Homo sapiens: one gene and its partners. The protein of the gene in region 1 purifies or fractionates together with the protein of each later gene. This does not show direct contact. Each region holds a gene or a part of one and is shown in the gene's direction. Other genes may lie near its edges.

Region 1 (3,500 bases):
TTGCTTTGGGTGTGGTACGTGTACAGGTACCTGCTGAGTGAAAAAGGTAACGCAGGCCGGGCGGGCTAGTCCCGGGCGCCCACAGCTGCCCAGTGCCTCCTCCCCTGGTGGCAGCCGCTGAGCAGCCTGGAGCAGGAGCCCGGAGACGATGGCTTTGACCTCCCAAAGAATCCGCCAGTGAGGAAAAGCGCTCGGGTGCTGAGCTGTCAGCGGCTCCGCCACCCAATTCGATCTGGAAGGTTCCATCTAGGGCTAAGGCAGACACCCAGGAAGACCTGCTGGGCACAGGTCAAGGCAGGGTGCAGGAGCAGCCGAGTCTTTGGGTGGCCAGGGGGCTCTGGAGGAGGCCGTGTGGAGGGTCGTTCAGAACGCGGTTCTCAAAGGTGATGCTGCCTGTTAGGTGTCTGGTAGGGGAGGCCAAGGGAGGCTGGCGCCCATGTGCAACCTGAGGCATGGACGAGGCCTGCTGACCCCTCTGGAACCACCCCCAAATCCCCAATCCTTTGGCAACGGGTGGCGCCTCCCGCCCTGATAGCCATCAGTTTGAAACCGTTGCTCCCTCAGATCTCATCCTGGCCTTGGGTGTCCTGGCCCAAAGCCGGCCGGTGTCCAGGCACAACAGAGTCCCCTGGAGACGGCTCTTCCGGAAGCCTGCTGTCTGGTGAGCTGGGACCTGTGCCACCCCTTGGAGCAGCGGCAGGGCCGGTGACCATGGGGGTGTGAACCTGGCCGGACCTGACAGCCCTTGAGCCAGCAGGGCCTAGGGCTCAGAGAAGTGGGACTCTGGCCCCCAGGGGACGCCTCTCGGGGTGGGTCCCACAGGCCCGGCCAGCTCGTGCGGCACCAGAGTCACGGTCCACCATTGGGCCCCGCAGGGCAGCCGTCGTCTCCCAGCTCTCTGCAGCCTGCTCCTTCTTCATCCTCCTCTCCTGGCTGCCCACCTTCTTCGAGGAGACCTTCCCCGACGCCAAGGTGAGTCGGGGGCTCCCGCAGGGTGAAGGAGCGCCCAGAAGGCACGAGGCTTGAGCTGCACCAGGCACTGTGGGTCCTTGGCCTGCAGATGGTGGAACCCTCGGCTCCTCCTGGACTCTGAGGGTCCTGGCACTGCCAGGCTCTTCCTCTGGAGAGGACCCCGTCCATGCTCGGGGCAGGTTTCTGTGTTTGAGGCTGGAAATGATGCGGGCGCTCGGTGCCTTCCTGCTGCGGCTGCAGCCCTCCCAGCCCTCATCGTGACCTGCTGGCCCACAGAACCCGACTTCAGAGCCTGAGGAGGCCGGTGCAGAAGCCGGGATGTGGACAGAGGGGTCACCTGCGGTCAGCACGGTTCCTTCTCTGAGGCTGTCTTGCTGCCCTGCCGGGTGGTGGTCAAGAGCTGCACATTCCCAGGAGCAGGGCTGGCCCTGCCGGAGAGCTTTCCTGGGCAGTGGTGGGCACGGGGGCGCTGTCCAGCCTGAGTATCCTCTTCCAGATGGCCAGATGCCGGCCCTGGCCCCCTCTAAGGCCAAACTCCCCCCTGCAGGGCTGGATCTTCAACGTGGTTCCTTGGTTGGTGGCGATTCCGGCCAGTCTATTCAGCGGGTTTCTCTCTGATCATCTCATCAATCAGGGTGAGCCCCAGGGAGGGGACCGGGGCTGGAAGCCACACCCTGGTTCACCTCGCTTTCGAGGGGCAGGATGCTCCCATCCTGGGGCTGCAGCTTCAGCACACGGAGAGCTGGGACAGAGGGGCACTTCTTTCCAGGCTCGGCCTCCTCCTTAAAGGGTGGGGTTAGACTGTGGTGGAGGGTCTGGTCTCACGGTGACTGTGGAGCTCACCCCTGGGGGCTGGATGCAGCCCCTGACCCTCCAGGAAGGCACCTGGAGGGGTCAGAGGTTACAAGCATCCTTGAACCTTTGGAAGAGCTTCTGTCTTTGTTCCATGTGCTCCAGACCCACGCTGGGATGAGCCCCGAGCGGGCTGCGTGTTTCTTCCCCTAGTGCAGTGTCCGCTGCACAGACACGTACAGGCGGATGCACACGCGTGCCCACATGCTCTCTCCACACGTGTGCCTATTCTTAGAATGTTCGTGTTTTTCCTAATTGCAAAAGGAATACACACTCGTTGTGGAAAAGCTAGAAAATCTGGAGCAGCAGAGGAAGTGGGGCCGCTCGCCTGTTTCCGCCTCTGTAACTGCTGTGTGGCTGTTCTGTGTTTCTGCCCAAACCCACGCCTTGGGAACCTTCCAAAGGCGCACATGCGGCCTCGCGGCTGCACCCCACATGCGTGTGTGCACACGTTTTTGCCTGCAGCACGGGATAGCTGTCTTGAGCCCCAAGCCTCTTCCTCCCCTGCTGCCCCTCTGCAGCCATTCGGGATGGGACCCCCTCTGGGGTGTCAGCACGAAAGGGCTAACGGGAGCCCCTTCCTTGGCCTCCCCCTGTAGGTTACAGAGCCATCACGGTGCGGAAGCTCATGCAGGTAGGAGAATCATTCCGGTCGTTCTCTCTGGATATCCCTGCTTTGTTCAGGGTCTCCCAGGAACTCAGGGTTGTGTCCCCAAGTCACCTGATATCTGGGACCAGGCAAATGCCAGGCCTCTCCATGTGTCCAGCACTGGGGCCCAGAAGGGGCTGTTTAGACAGCTGTTGGGGGGAAGGCTGGGGTCAGCATCCTGTGCCCCTCTGGGCCCAGGCCTGAGCTTGCCCACGTCGAATAGGGCCTCTCCCTTGGAGCGGGGCTGATTCTTGCGGAGACTCCTCCCAGACCTCCTCTAGGGGGCCTGGTCTGAGAGAAGTTTGTGGTCGCAGCCAACCTGACCGTTGTGCGGTGCGCCCAGGGGGGCTTTCGGGCAGCTGAGTCAGGAGAGGGCCCTGCTGCAGGCGGGCTGGGTGCCTCTCCGTCACGGTGGCGCTTTCCTGCAGGGCATGGGCCTTGGCCTCTCCAGCGTCTTTGCTCTGTGCCTGGGCCACACCTCCAGCTTCTGTGAGTCTGTGGTCTTTGCATCAGCCTCCATCGGCCTCCAGACCTTCAACCACAGGTGAGGGCCGACTGCTCCATCCACCAGAGCGCCGTGCTGCCCGCACGGCCGAGGCCCGCACATGTGAAGAGGGAGCTCTGTCCGCCTCTCTCAGTCTCTTCCTCACACTTCACCCCCTTCCCAAGCTGCTGGGCAGTGACTGCACTGAAGACCCAGTAGTTCTTTAGGAACCAGCAATTCACTTCAGTGAGCAGCACGTGCGCGTGATTTGTGCGAACATGCTTTCCCCACAGCACTTTACTCTAAGGAGTCGCTTCCTGCACTGGGTCCTCCATGAAGACGGGCAGCTGGGGCTCGGGTTGGCATGGTGTGCAGGGCTGCAGTGCTCTGGCCAGTGGGTGGTTGGGGCTCGGGTTGGCGTGGTGTGCAGGGCTGCAGTGCTCTGGCCAGTGGGTGGTTGGGGCTCGGGTTGGCATGGTGTGCAGGGCTGCAGTGCTCTGGCCAGTGGGTGGTTGGGGCTCGGGTTGGCGTGGTGTGCAGGGC
Region 2 (3,500 bases), on another chromosome or scaffold:
TGATGGCTCATGCTAGTTCAGCAAATATTGGGCCCTTCCTGGAGAAGAGAGGCTGTATCTCCATGCCAGAGCAGGTAAAATATCATTTTGTTTTTGGTAATTGAGTCATTACTTGGCTTATACTTCCTTTGGGTTTTATATAGCATTAAAAAAATGCTACTATTTGTAAAAAGGCACCAGTGGCAATGAGTTAGTTTATGAAATTGAATGCTTCCCTTGAGACCTAATGCCAAATAGAAATTTAGATGTCTTGTCGGGGCTGATTAACAGAAAAAGTAATTATCAATCAGTTCACAGGAAATTATCATTAGCTGTCTTACTGATACTGGTTCTCTGTGAGCGATCCTCTTTATAATTTGTAGAGATGATTTATTTCTAAAGGAATGGCAATGTGAATAAAGGTTTCTATATGTTTTAGTTGAGAAGAGCCCTAGAGATCAGCTGTGTGTCTCTTGTTTTATAATTGTGAAAATTGAGGCTCTTGGAAGGCACATGATTTGCCCAGGGTCAGTGGCAAGCCAAGATTAGAGAGTGGCTCTTCTCTTTTTCTGGTGAACTTTCTACTGCATTTGACATTCCTTGTTTTGTGATTAACAGAAGTCAGCATCCGGTATTGTAGCTGTCCCTTTCAGCGAATGGCTCCTTGGAAGCAAACCTGCCAGTGGTTATCAAGCTCCTTACATACCCAGCACCGACCCCCAGGACTGGCTTACCCAAAAGCAGACCTTGGAGAACAGTCAGGTCTGTTGCTGCTTTTATTGTTTCTACAGTAGACACAGCAGTAGGTGGAGTTAGTTACTAATCAGTAGTACTATGTGTCATTGTTAACTTTTTGGTTGCAGTCTGGAAACATATTTATTAATAGTCTCTTCATCATAGAAAGTTTAGAAAATAAGGAACTCTTTATCATAGAAAATTTTAAAAATAAAGAATTTTATATTAAAAAAGCCCACAAACCCATAATCTCAACACAAAGAGAAAAACACTGTAACAATAAAAGTGAAGTATTTATATACTTCAGTTTTCTATACATACATATTTTAAAAGAACCATTCTGTAAGTCCTGTTTCGGTAGGTAGATTTTTTTTTTCACCAGGATAACATTAACATATTTCTCTGTCATTTAATTTCTTCTGTAAAGTATTTAGTAGTATATAATTGATTGGCTGTAATTTAAATTCAAGTTTTTCTGGATATAAAAAAGGATTCCCTAAACATCCAGGAGCCAATTATTTGTGTGCATTCTTGATTAGTTCCTTAGGAGTACATTTATAGAAATTGCATTCCTAGATTATAATTCTGCTTACGCTTTAAGACTTTGGATACATATTGCCAATTTGGCTTCCCAGGAAGTTGCCAACAGTTTATAGTCTCACCAGCAGAATATTCAGGGTACCTGCTTCCCTGAAACCTAAGAGTAATAGTCATTTAGGTTTTTTGCTCTGAATTTGACACAAAATAGCAATTTTGCTTTTGTTTTTTCTTCCATTAGTAAGGAGGTTGAGTATTTTCTTTTTTCGTTTTTTTTTTTTTTTTTTTTTTTTTTTTTTTTTCTTTCTTTTTGAGACCGAGTCTTGCTCTGTCTCCCAGGCTGGAGTGTAGTAGTGGGATCTCGGCTCACTGCAAGCTCCGTCCTGCGGGTTCATGCCATTCTCCTGCCTCAGCCTCCTGAGTAGCTGGGATTACAGGCGCTTGCCACCACACCCTGCTAATTTTTTGCATATTTTTTATTTTTTAGTAGATACGGGGTTTCACCCGTGTTAGCCAGGATGGTCTCTATCTGACCTTGTGATCTGCCTGCCTCGGCCTCCCAAAGTGCTGGGATTACAGGCGTGAACCACCGTACCCGGCCAAGTATTTTCATGTTTATTAGGCTTCTTTGATGACTTGCCTGATCATATCCTTTGCTTATTTTTTGTGCTTTATTTGTAAAGGCATATTACACCCTTTTCTATCAGATAAGAGTATCTAAATAGAGAAATCCCTTGCCTTTTGGCTTTGTGTACTTAAATTTCAAAACACTGGGCAAGACAGTAAATATGCAGACAGGGCCGGGCGTGGTGGCTCACGCCTGTAATCCCAGTACTTTGGGAGGCTGAGGTGGGCGGATCACGAGGTCAGGAGATCGAGACCATCCTGGCTAACACGGTGAAACCCCGTCTCTACTAAAAATACAAAAAAAAAAAAAATTAGCTGGGCGTGGTGGTGGGCGCCTATAGTCCCAGCTACTCGGAAGGCTGAGGCAGGAGAATGGCGTGAAGCTGGGAGGCAGAGCTTGCAGTGAGCTGAGATTGTGCCACCGCACTCCAGCCTGGGCGACAGAGTGAGACTGTCTCAAAAAAAGAAAAAGTGCAGACAGAATCTCCAAAGCAGTCATAATTGTTCTGGCAAACTAATACTGTGTACTTTTTGTGTAGACTTCTTCCAGAGCCTGCAATTTCTTCAATAATGTCGGGGGAAACCTAAAGGGCTTAGAAAACTGGCTCCTCAAGAGTGAAAAATCAAGTTATCAAAAGTGTAACAGCCATTCCACTACTAGTTCTTTCTCCATTGAAATGGAAAAGGTTGGAGATCAAGAGCTTCCTGATCAAGATGAGATGGACCTATCAGATTGGCTAGTGACTCCCCAGGAATCCCATAAGCTGCGGAAGCCTGAGAATGGCAGTCGTGAAACCAGTGAGAAGTTTAAGCTCTTATTCCAGTCCTATAATGTGAATGATTGGCTTGTCAAGACTGACTCCTGTACCAACTGTCAGGGAAACCAGCCCAAAGGTGTGGAGATTGAAAACCTGGGCAATCTGAAGTGCCTGAATGACCACTTGGAGGCCAAGAAACCATTGTCCACCCCCAGCATGGTTACAGAGGATTGGCTTGTCCAGAACCATCAGGACCCATGTAAGGTAGAGGAGGTGTGCAGAGCCAATGAGCCCTGCACAAGCTTTGCAGAGTGTGTGTGTGATGAGAATTGTGAGAAGGAGGCTCTGTATAAGTGGCTTCTGAAGAAAGAAGGAAAGGATAAAAATGGGATGCCTGTGGAACCCAAACCTGAGCCTGAGAAGCATAAAGATTCCCTGAATATGTGGCTCTGTCCTAGAAAAGAAGTAATAGAACAAACTAAAGCACCAAAGGCAATGACTCCTTCTAGAATTGCTGATTCCTTCCAAGTCATAAAGAACAGCCCCTTGTCGGAGTGGCTTATCAGGCCCCCATACAAAGAAGGAAGTCCCAAGGAAGTGCCTGGTACTGAAGACAGAGCTGGCAAACAGAAGTTTAAAAGCCCCATGAATACTTCCTGGTGTTCCTTTAACACAGCTGACTGGGTCCTGCCAGGAAAGAAGATGGGCAACCTCAGCCAGTTATCTTCTGGAGAAGACAAGTGGCTGCTTCGAAAGAAGGCCCAGGTGAGCATAAACATCAAAATAGCACTGGTTTGAGTTTTATTTATTTATTCATTTATTTTGAGATGGGGTCTCTGTCACTCAGGCTGGAGTGCAGTGGTG
Region 3 (3,500 bases), on another chromosome or scaffold:
CCAGATATTTTCAGTTGCCGTGATTCTGAGGATCTGATGCCCCTGGAAAGGTACAACAGTCCCCAGCACCCACTAGCTGGCCCAGGCCCCAAACTGCCAGGAGTGGCCTTCTTGAGACCATGTGTCACCCTCCCAGGGAACAAGAGCTCGTGGCTGTCTGATAAGCCAGGCCTGTGTGACTCCTCAGGACATGCACCCCCAGGTCCCTGTACAGCTGAGCACAATAGCTCAGGAGTGCAGGGCCATGATGCCTGTGTCTGTCTTCTCTCCTGGGCCACAGCCACCCCACGTCATGCTGCAGCGCCGCAGAGATCATGGCTGTCCTCTTTTTCCACACCATGCGCTACAAGTCCCAGGACCCCCGGAATCCGCACAATGACCGCTTTGTGCTCTCCAAGGTAAGAGCCCAGCTGCCCACTGCCAGCCACACCTTGCCTGGGACTAGGGTCACACGGGCCCTGGAATGGTGAGTGGTCTTTGAGGAGACCTGGCTGGGCCCACCTCTCCCAGGTGCCTTCTCCCTGCTCGTCCTGGCCTCTCCCTCAGTGTCCTGCTCTGTGCTGACCCAGCTGGCTAAGGAATACAGGACTGAATTGATGGGTTGCTCTGCCATGGAGCCCAGGTACATAAACAACGCTTTAACTCAAAGAAATGGAGTAGGGGACTACGGAAACATCTGTTGTGTGTTCTGCCCAGTCTGGGTGTTGACAGGCAGGACTGGCATCTCGGTCTGGGTTGTGGCTCCCTACCTGCTCTATCTGTGTTGTGCCAGCGCTCCCGAGGCCACGGCTTGCCCCCTCGGGGTGGTGGTGTGCTGTAGCAGGGTTTTGGATGGGGACCCCCTGACCCCCCCCTTCTGGGTGGAATCACAGCCACAGATCCCTGAAATCCACCTGTGCTCAGGCCTGCCTCCGTGGCGTTTGGTCTCTCGGGCAGGCTTTAGAGCTTAGAAGTCTGTCCAAGTTGTTCCCATGCCACAAACCAGGGATTAGGGCAGCCGGCTGCCTGCTGGGGTTTTGGCTTCGTCCAGCCTCACAGCTGTGCCCCCTGCACCTGTCTTAGTGCCTGCCTGGCCTTGGCAGTGGGAACTTTGGGCTGAAAACCAAGAGGCTGAAGAGGGCTGAAAGGGGAGAAGTGGCCTTCACTTGCTTCCTCCCCTGAAATGGATGCTGCAGTTGGCCGGCTCGGCCGGGCCCCAGGGGTCAGTGTGAAGTAGGCACAGCCCGAAGTAGAACCGCTCCCCACCTGACCTCACCCCACCATCCATCTCCCGGCAGGGCCATGCAGCTCCCATCCTCTACGCGGTCTGGGCTGAAGCTGGTTTCCTGGCCGAGGCGGAGCTGCTGAACCTGAGGAAGATCAGCTCCGACTTGGACGGGCACCCGGTCCCGGTAAGTGCTCCTGCCAGAGCCTCCCATGCCTCTGCCTCCACTTCCTATTTCCCAGACATGTGGGACGGGGGTAGGGGGTGCCCACTGAGAAGCCAAAGGTGTTGAAAGGCGGAGGAGGGCATTGAGTTGAGGAAGGAAAGAAGCAGGTGTTTTGGGGACACGTATTCAACCCAAGCTGGTGCCAAAGGGGAAGGCCTTCTGAGGCCTCAGCCAGGGTGCTCTGGGATGACTTCAGGGAGGGCCTCTCCCCAAGCTACCCTTCTGCACTGGGCCTCCTTGGCTAGGTAGCTACAGCTTGGGAAGAGAGGGGACTCGATAAGGGAGTGGCTGCAGGATGCTGGCGAAACCCTGGGGAAGGGACCCAGTTTGTTCCTTGGGGTGCCATCTGGCATCCCTGCAAACGTTAAGACTTCATGGATTACCACAAAAACTGTCACATGGTCTGGGTCCCCACGAGGGGCAAATGTTCTGTCAATTTTTTCATGATTCTCTCTCCCAGCACTTTGTGAAGTGGGTGATGTGGGAACTGAGGCTCACAGAGGTTCAGTCCCTTGCCTGAGGCCTGAGGCCACATAGCTGGCTAGTGGGCAGGGCTGGGATTTGAACCTATAATTATAATTAGTTCATTAGGAGAAGAAGTCACATGCTAGGTAGAGGCCATCCTGGGGCCTGACCTTCTGCAGAGGAAGGGCTTGCTGGGCTGGGTGGGAGTGTGGCTCCCTAGGCGGGTGAGACCAGGATCCCTTCTCCTCTCAGATTAACGGTGGCCTTCTGTTATGACAGAAACAAGCTTTCACCGACGTGGCCACTGGCTCCCTGGGCCAGGGCCTCGGGGCCGCTTGTGGGATGGCCTACACCGGCAAATACTTCGACAAGGCCAGGTAACACACCTACTCCCCACCCCCAACCTGGGTAGTTTTGGGGAGTGGTCCTTGGGTGACCCACCCTTCACCATCGCCCCCAGACTCTTCCTCTTTCCTGGCTAGGGCAGAGTAATACATATGCGTGGCCTCTTTTGCTCTTTAAACATCCGCTATGGCTGGTGCCATGACCGGCCCCCTTTACAAATGAGGAAACACTCAGGAGTTAAGGGACCTGCCCTGGGTCCCTCAGCAGTGACTGGCAGGGCCAGGTTTGCACAGAGTGCGTGCTCTCAATCATGTGCTCTTCAGCCAGAGTGCTTAGGCTGAGGACTTCCTGTTTTGCCCCCAGCCCTGTGCCCAGACCCCAGAAGTCTCAGAAAGACCCACCCCCAGGCCCCTGTCTGACTAGGCACCAGGAGCCCAGGCCTGAGCCACTTGCCTTTATCTTGGTAAAGGGGAGGGTTGTATGTTCTGAGGGGTTCTGGGATACCTGTAAGCCACCTCCTATCAGCAGGGAAGAAACAAACATTTGAGAGATTGAGCCTTCAGAGGGTGGGTGATGAGCCTGACCAGAAAGGTGTGCTGCTCTAGCGCCCACCAGGTGATTTGTAGGAACGGCCCCCCAGGAAGGTTCTAGCCATAAGTTTGTCTGCGGTGGTCAGATATGGCCTGGGGGGATGAGGTTGTAAACTGTTAAGAATAATGGCTGGCTGAGGGAAGGATTGCTTGAGGCCAGGAGTTCCAGACCAGCCTAGGCAACAGAGCAAGACTCTCTCTACAAAAAATACAAAACTTAGCCAGGCATGGTGGTACACACCTGTAGTCCCAGCTACATAGGAGGCTGAGGTGGGAGGATCACTTGAGCCTAGGGCTTCAAGATTATAGCTATACATGATTGAGCCACTGCACCCTAGCCTGGGCTACAGAGCGAGACTCTGCCTCTTTAAAAAAAAAATTATTCTTTTTTTTAAAGAATAATCACTGTATTAGTCTGTTTCCACACTGCTGATAAAGGCATACCCAAGTCTGGGGAAGAAAAAGAGGTCTAATGGACTTACAGTTCCACATGGCTAGGGAGGCCTCACAGTCATGCTGGAAGGTAAGGAGGAACAAGTCACATCTTATGTGGAAGGCGCAGGCAAAGAGAGAGTTTGTGCAGGGAAACTCCCGTTTTTAAAACCATCAGATCTTGTGAGACTTATTCACCATCACGAGAACAGCATGGGGAAGACCTGTCCCCATGATT
Region 4 (4,099 bases), on another chromosome or scaffold:
TAATACAGCGCACACCGGCTACATAAATATTGTGCTTTGATTGTCTTCTGTAATCAAAGGCAAGGCTGCTGAGTTTGTTACTTTCCCCACCATGCAACTGCTGGAGGAGAACTCTGGGGGAAGGGAACTGAGGTTGCCCAGGTGGTTTTTGTTGCATGTGTCTAACTGCAAGTTGTGTCTCTGTCTATCGAGGGGAGGATAAGGCCCATTACATTCAGATTCAATAAGAATTTATCAAATGCCTATTTTGTGAGAGGCATTGAAAGACACAGTATCTTATTTCATTTTTAATTGAATTAGTAATGACTTGATAAGGCACAAAGGTTAGTCTAACTAACATTTTTTTTTTCCCTGACATACGAGTGATCCCTACACTATTGGCTGTGTCCACTTTATTGATTGTGAAACAGCCTAAATGCATGGAATTGGAAACTGGAAGTCATTCTACACAATACAAGAAAGCAGCACCATCTTTCCATGTACCTGCCAGTGCTATGGCTGGCTTGGCTTTTCCAGCAGTTTTCTGGACTTGGTTGAGGTGGCTTCCTAGGGGCATTTTCTCACCCCCTCCCAGCTAAGACTGCTGTTAATTTTGAATAATTTGGAGGATGCTCTACCCTTTGGGGTAGCAGAGTTTTGCAACCCACAGATCCCTTTTGCCTTGAGGAATGGTGGTGATGGTGGGTGTCAGAGATTCTGTCTGTATAAGTCCCCGGGAAAGCTCAGCTGTCGCCTGACCCGAGGGTCGTGCAGTTTCCTTAACCCTGACTTTAAGTCAGCCCTCTTTAACCCCGACTCCCAAGCTGGGCTGTCCTTTGAAAGAAAAACGAAACCGCCCAGTTCTGAGCGTCGGAAAATGGGCACTCGCTCCCTGGGGGTTTGGGGCAACTTCCCCGCTACGTCGCCCAGGGATTTTAAATAATTGCCAGCCACCAGAAACCCCCTAACCCTTAATTCTTCCCTCCGAGACCCAGCCCGCTGCTTGCCACTTCCCTCTCCAAACGCTGGCGGGGGTGGGTGGCAGCACCGAGGCGATTTTCTTCGTCTTTTTTTCCTCCGGGTTTTGTCATGGAAACGCTGACACAACCTCCAGACGGCGGCCGAGCCCGGCCGGGGACTGAGGGCTTTTGGGACCCTGCGGGAGCGCGGCGCGCACACCGCACTCCCCGGGCAACAGCTGGACGCGACCATATCCCGGGTAGGGGCGGGGGGAGCGCGACGCTCCGCCCCGGCGCTAGGGTCCCTCCCTCCTCCCGGCTCTCCGCAGGCGCCCTCCCCTCGCCGGGGGCCGCGAGTTGCATTTGGTAAAACCCAGCCCCGGAATATATAGATCGTTGGAGCGCAATGAAGTAGCCTTTGGAGAGAAGGGAGAGGGCCCGTCGGACAGCCACAGCGGCCAGCGCAGCGGCAGCGGCGGCGGCACCACCATCACCGCTCGCACCCCAGCCGCCCGGCCCGCGACCAGGCAGCGGCGGCCGCCGGCGGGATCGGAGGAGGCGGCGGAGCGGCGAGGAGGAGGAGCAGGAGCGCGCAGCCAGCGGGTCCACGCATCTCAGCACTTCCAGACCAACTCCGGCACCTTCCACACCCCTGCCCGGGCTGGGGGCTCCGAGAGCGGCCGCGAAGCGACTCCGATCCTCCCTCTGAGCCTTGCTCAGCTCTGCCCCGCGCCTCCCGGGCTCCGGTCCGCGCGGCGGGGTCCCTGCTCCTGCGCCCCGGGCGCGCTTCCCGGACACCCCGGTCCCCGCAGCCAGGACAAAGCCATGAAGCCAGCGCTGCTGGAAGTGATGAGGATGAACAGAATCTGCCGGATGGTGCTGGCCACTTGCTTGGGATCCTTTATCCTGGTCATCTTCTATTTCCAAAGTATGTTGCACCCAGGTAGGGGGCGCGTTAGCGTGGTTTTGTTGGATATTTTCTTCTCTCTCGCGCTCTAGCTCGCTCCGCCTGATTTCTGCCTCTTCCAACCCTACCTCTCCGCCTTCGGCCTCTTCGGGGCTCCTGGCTGCCCAGAGCTCCTGGCTGCCCAGATCTACCCGGGTCACCGCGTCGGGATGGGGAGGAGAAGGGAAGGTGTGCTTCGCCCTCTTCTTCCTACCGGCTCCGGGCTGGAGGATGGGACCAGGAGGGGCGGTAGTTTTTTTTTTTTTTTTTTTCTTCTTCTTTTTTTCTTTGTGTCCCTTGTCTGTCTGTCTGCGAGGTAGCAGGGAAACGGAGAGGTGTGGGAAGCAACCGGGGGTGAGGGGCTGGTTTGAGGAGAACGAAACTCCCTCCCTGCTGCTGCCGAGGTCGGAGGATGAAAGAGTTACCCGGAGCCGGCTGCTCTGCGCCCGGGCGAGCCGCCTCTTCCTGGTTGCCGGGCCGGGGGCGAAGGGTGTACGCCCCGGCGAGGTTGCGAGTCCCTGCAGCAGGCTGGGAGCCCGGGACTGGGCTCCCACGTGTCCCGGGCTCCGCGCAGAGCTGAGCAGGTGTGGAGAGTGGTCGGGTGCCCAGCGTTGCCCCTCCACCACGCGCCGGCCGTTTGCCCCCGGGGTCCGGCTCCGCAGTGACCTTGCGGCTGGTGCCCCGGGGCCTGCTCCAGCCCCCAGCCCTGAGCTGGAAACTCCGAGCTCCTGGGTCACGCCTTGACCACTGCAGTTTTGGAGGAAACTTTGGCCAGGTCCTGGGCTGACCGTCCGTTTGCATCCCCCACTTCTGGGATCCGAGCAACGGGAATCCCCCGGGCGGCGTGGGAATGAACCCCATTCCTCCGGTCCCTTGTGGCTCAGGCAAAGTTCCACGTCCGAAATCTGGACTGGGGGAGGGACGAGGCTCGTCGCTTCCTAGGGGTGCGAGGGAAAGTTTGGGTTCTGGAGAGGGAGGGGCGCCCTCGAGCGCGGCGGCCGGGGGTGAGCAGCTCGGCTGCGAAGCCCAACAGGTAGAACGTTCCGAGAAGCCTTCCGGGTAACGCGGGTCTCCCCGCCAAGCCGTGGCTCCCCTGCTCCCTTTTACCCTCCCTTAGCAGCCCCCTGCCGGGCCACGTTGGCTCAGAAATCCATTTTCTACGCCTCCGAGTTGCCTTTCTCAGCGTAGTCACAGCAATAATTTGCTTTTCTAATTGCAAGGAGGAGGGAGGTGGAAACGCATTTCCTTCCAGGGAAGTGGGGTTGGTGTTTTTCATTTTTGCCTCCCGCCTTCTCCTTTCACTGTGTATCTAACACTTTAAACAGACGCAGTCCCGAATTCATCAAGCCTGCGTTTGGGTCGATGGCAGAGGAATAAAGCTGTTCTTTCCATCAAACAGGCAGGGCTGCAGGCTGCAGATTCCTTGACAGCGCAGGGACAGACGGCCCCTTTGCCCCACTCGGTCTGGAGCAGTTGTTAAGGCAGCCACACTGCCAAGGATATGGTCCGACTCTACCACATGTAACCTCAGGACGTCCGAGCCAGCCCTGTTAAAGATGGCTTTTGTTTGCAGCTGGGTATTTTTAGTTTAATGTCAGCAAACTACAGCGGTGTTTGTCTCCTCACCCAAACCTGCGGTTGTGAAACTTATAAAGGAATTTAAAAATGGACCTGGCTTGCATTCCGGCAGGCAGGCCTTGGTTGCAGTGGGCAGGGCCAGACAGCCAGGGGTATCTCAGAGTGCCAAGCTCCAGGGCCCACCGGAGACCGGGCCAGACTCACCCCAGAGCGCCAGGGGACTGGTGGTGTACAGATACACTCGGGTTCAAACAGTTTAAACAAGGGGCCGGTGATTTGGTCTAGACTCTAGAGCTGTGTTCAGGTTTCGCTGGGACCGTGAATGCCAGTAATGCTCTGTACGAATGCCCAGAACACGGATGAGTGTCAGCCTTCAGCAGGAATGCGCTTGAGCTTCTGTGTACCTGTTAATTGCCCAGGGAAATACAATTGTCATGGAATTCTTTGTGAGAATTGGGAAATAACTTTCTAGCCAAAGATACTAGAAAGAAACTTCCAACTTGTAATTGTCACTTTGTGAAAATTTCCAGCCCTTGTTAGTCTTAAGTTGACTTGAAAGTGACATCATATCTTTTCAGCCTAGCCTTTTGGAAGAGGCAGAGAACCTTTTCTAAGCTTGTGCTGAAAAAGATCCTCT

The links. Proteins that work in one complex are often made in the same cells at the same time.
Region 2: the proteins of SLC17A9 (region 1) and NCOA4 purify together in Homo sapiens (affinity purification with mass spectrometry; one large-scale study listed by BioGRID and IntAct). This does not show direct contact.
Region 3: the proteins of SLC17A9 (region 1) and TKT purify together in Homo sapiens (affinity purification with mass spectrometry; one large-scale study listed by BioGRID and IntAct). This does not show direct contact.
Region 4: the proteins of SLC17A9 (region 1) and CHST11 purify together in Homo sapiens (affinity purification with mass spectrometry; one large-scale study listed by BioGRID and IntAct). This does not show direct contact.

What each region holds. Positions count from the first base shown.
Region 1 is NC_000020.11:62,962,709-62,966,208, forward strand, and holds part of SLC17A9 (voltage-gated purine nucleotide uniporter SLC17A9), read left to right. Parts: coding exon 1-46; intron 47-564; coding exon 565-661; intron 662-875; coding exon 876-972; intron 973-1,519; coding exon 1,520-1,607; intron 1,608-2,423; coding exon 2,424-2,458; intron 2,459-2,901; coding exon 2,902-3,017; intron 3,018-3,500. UniProt on the Homo sapiens protein: Voltage-gated ATP nucleotide uniporter that can also transport the purine nucleotides ADP and GTP. Uses the membrane potential as the driving force to control ATP accumulation in lysosomes and secretory vesicles.
Region 2 is NC_000010.11:46,010,124-46,013,623, reverse strand, and holds part of NCOA4 (nuclear receptor coactivator 4), read left to right. Parts: coding exon 1-74; intron 75-597; coding exon 598-741; intron 742-2,417; coding exon 2,418-3,401; intron 3,402-3,500. UniProt on the Homo sapiens protein: Cargo receptor for the autophagic turnover of the iron-binding ferritin complex, playing a central role in iron homeostasis. Acts as an adapter for delivery of ferritin to lysosomes and autophagic degradation of ferritin, a process named ferritinophagy.
Region 3 is NC_000003.12:53,239,023-53,242,522, reverse strand, and holds part of TKT (transketolase), read left to right. Parts: intron 1-280; coding exon 281-398; intron 399-1,277; coding exon 1,278-1,391; intron 1,392-2,174; coding exon 2,175-2,272; intron 2,273-3,500. UniProt on the Homo sapiens protein: Catalyzes the transfer of a two-carbon ketol group from a ketose donor to an aldose acceptor, via a covalent intermediate with the cofactor thiamine pyrophosphate.
Region 4 is NC_000012.12:104,455,649-104,459,747, forward strand, and holds the start of CHST11 (carbohydrate sulfotransferase 11), read left to right. Parts: upstream 1-1,299; 5' UTR 1,300-1,763; coding exon 1,764-1,881; intron 1,882-4,099.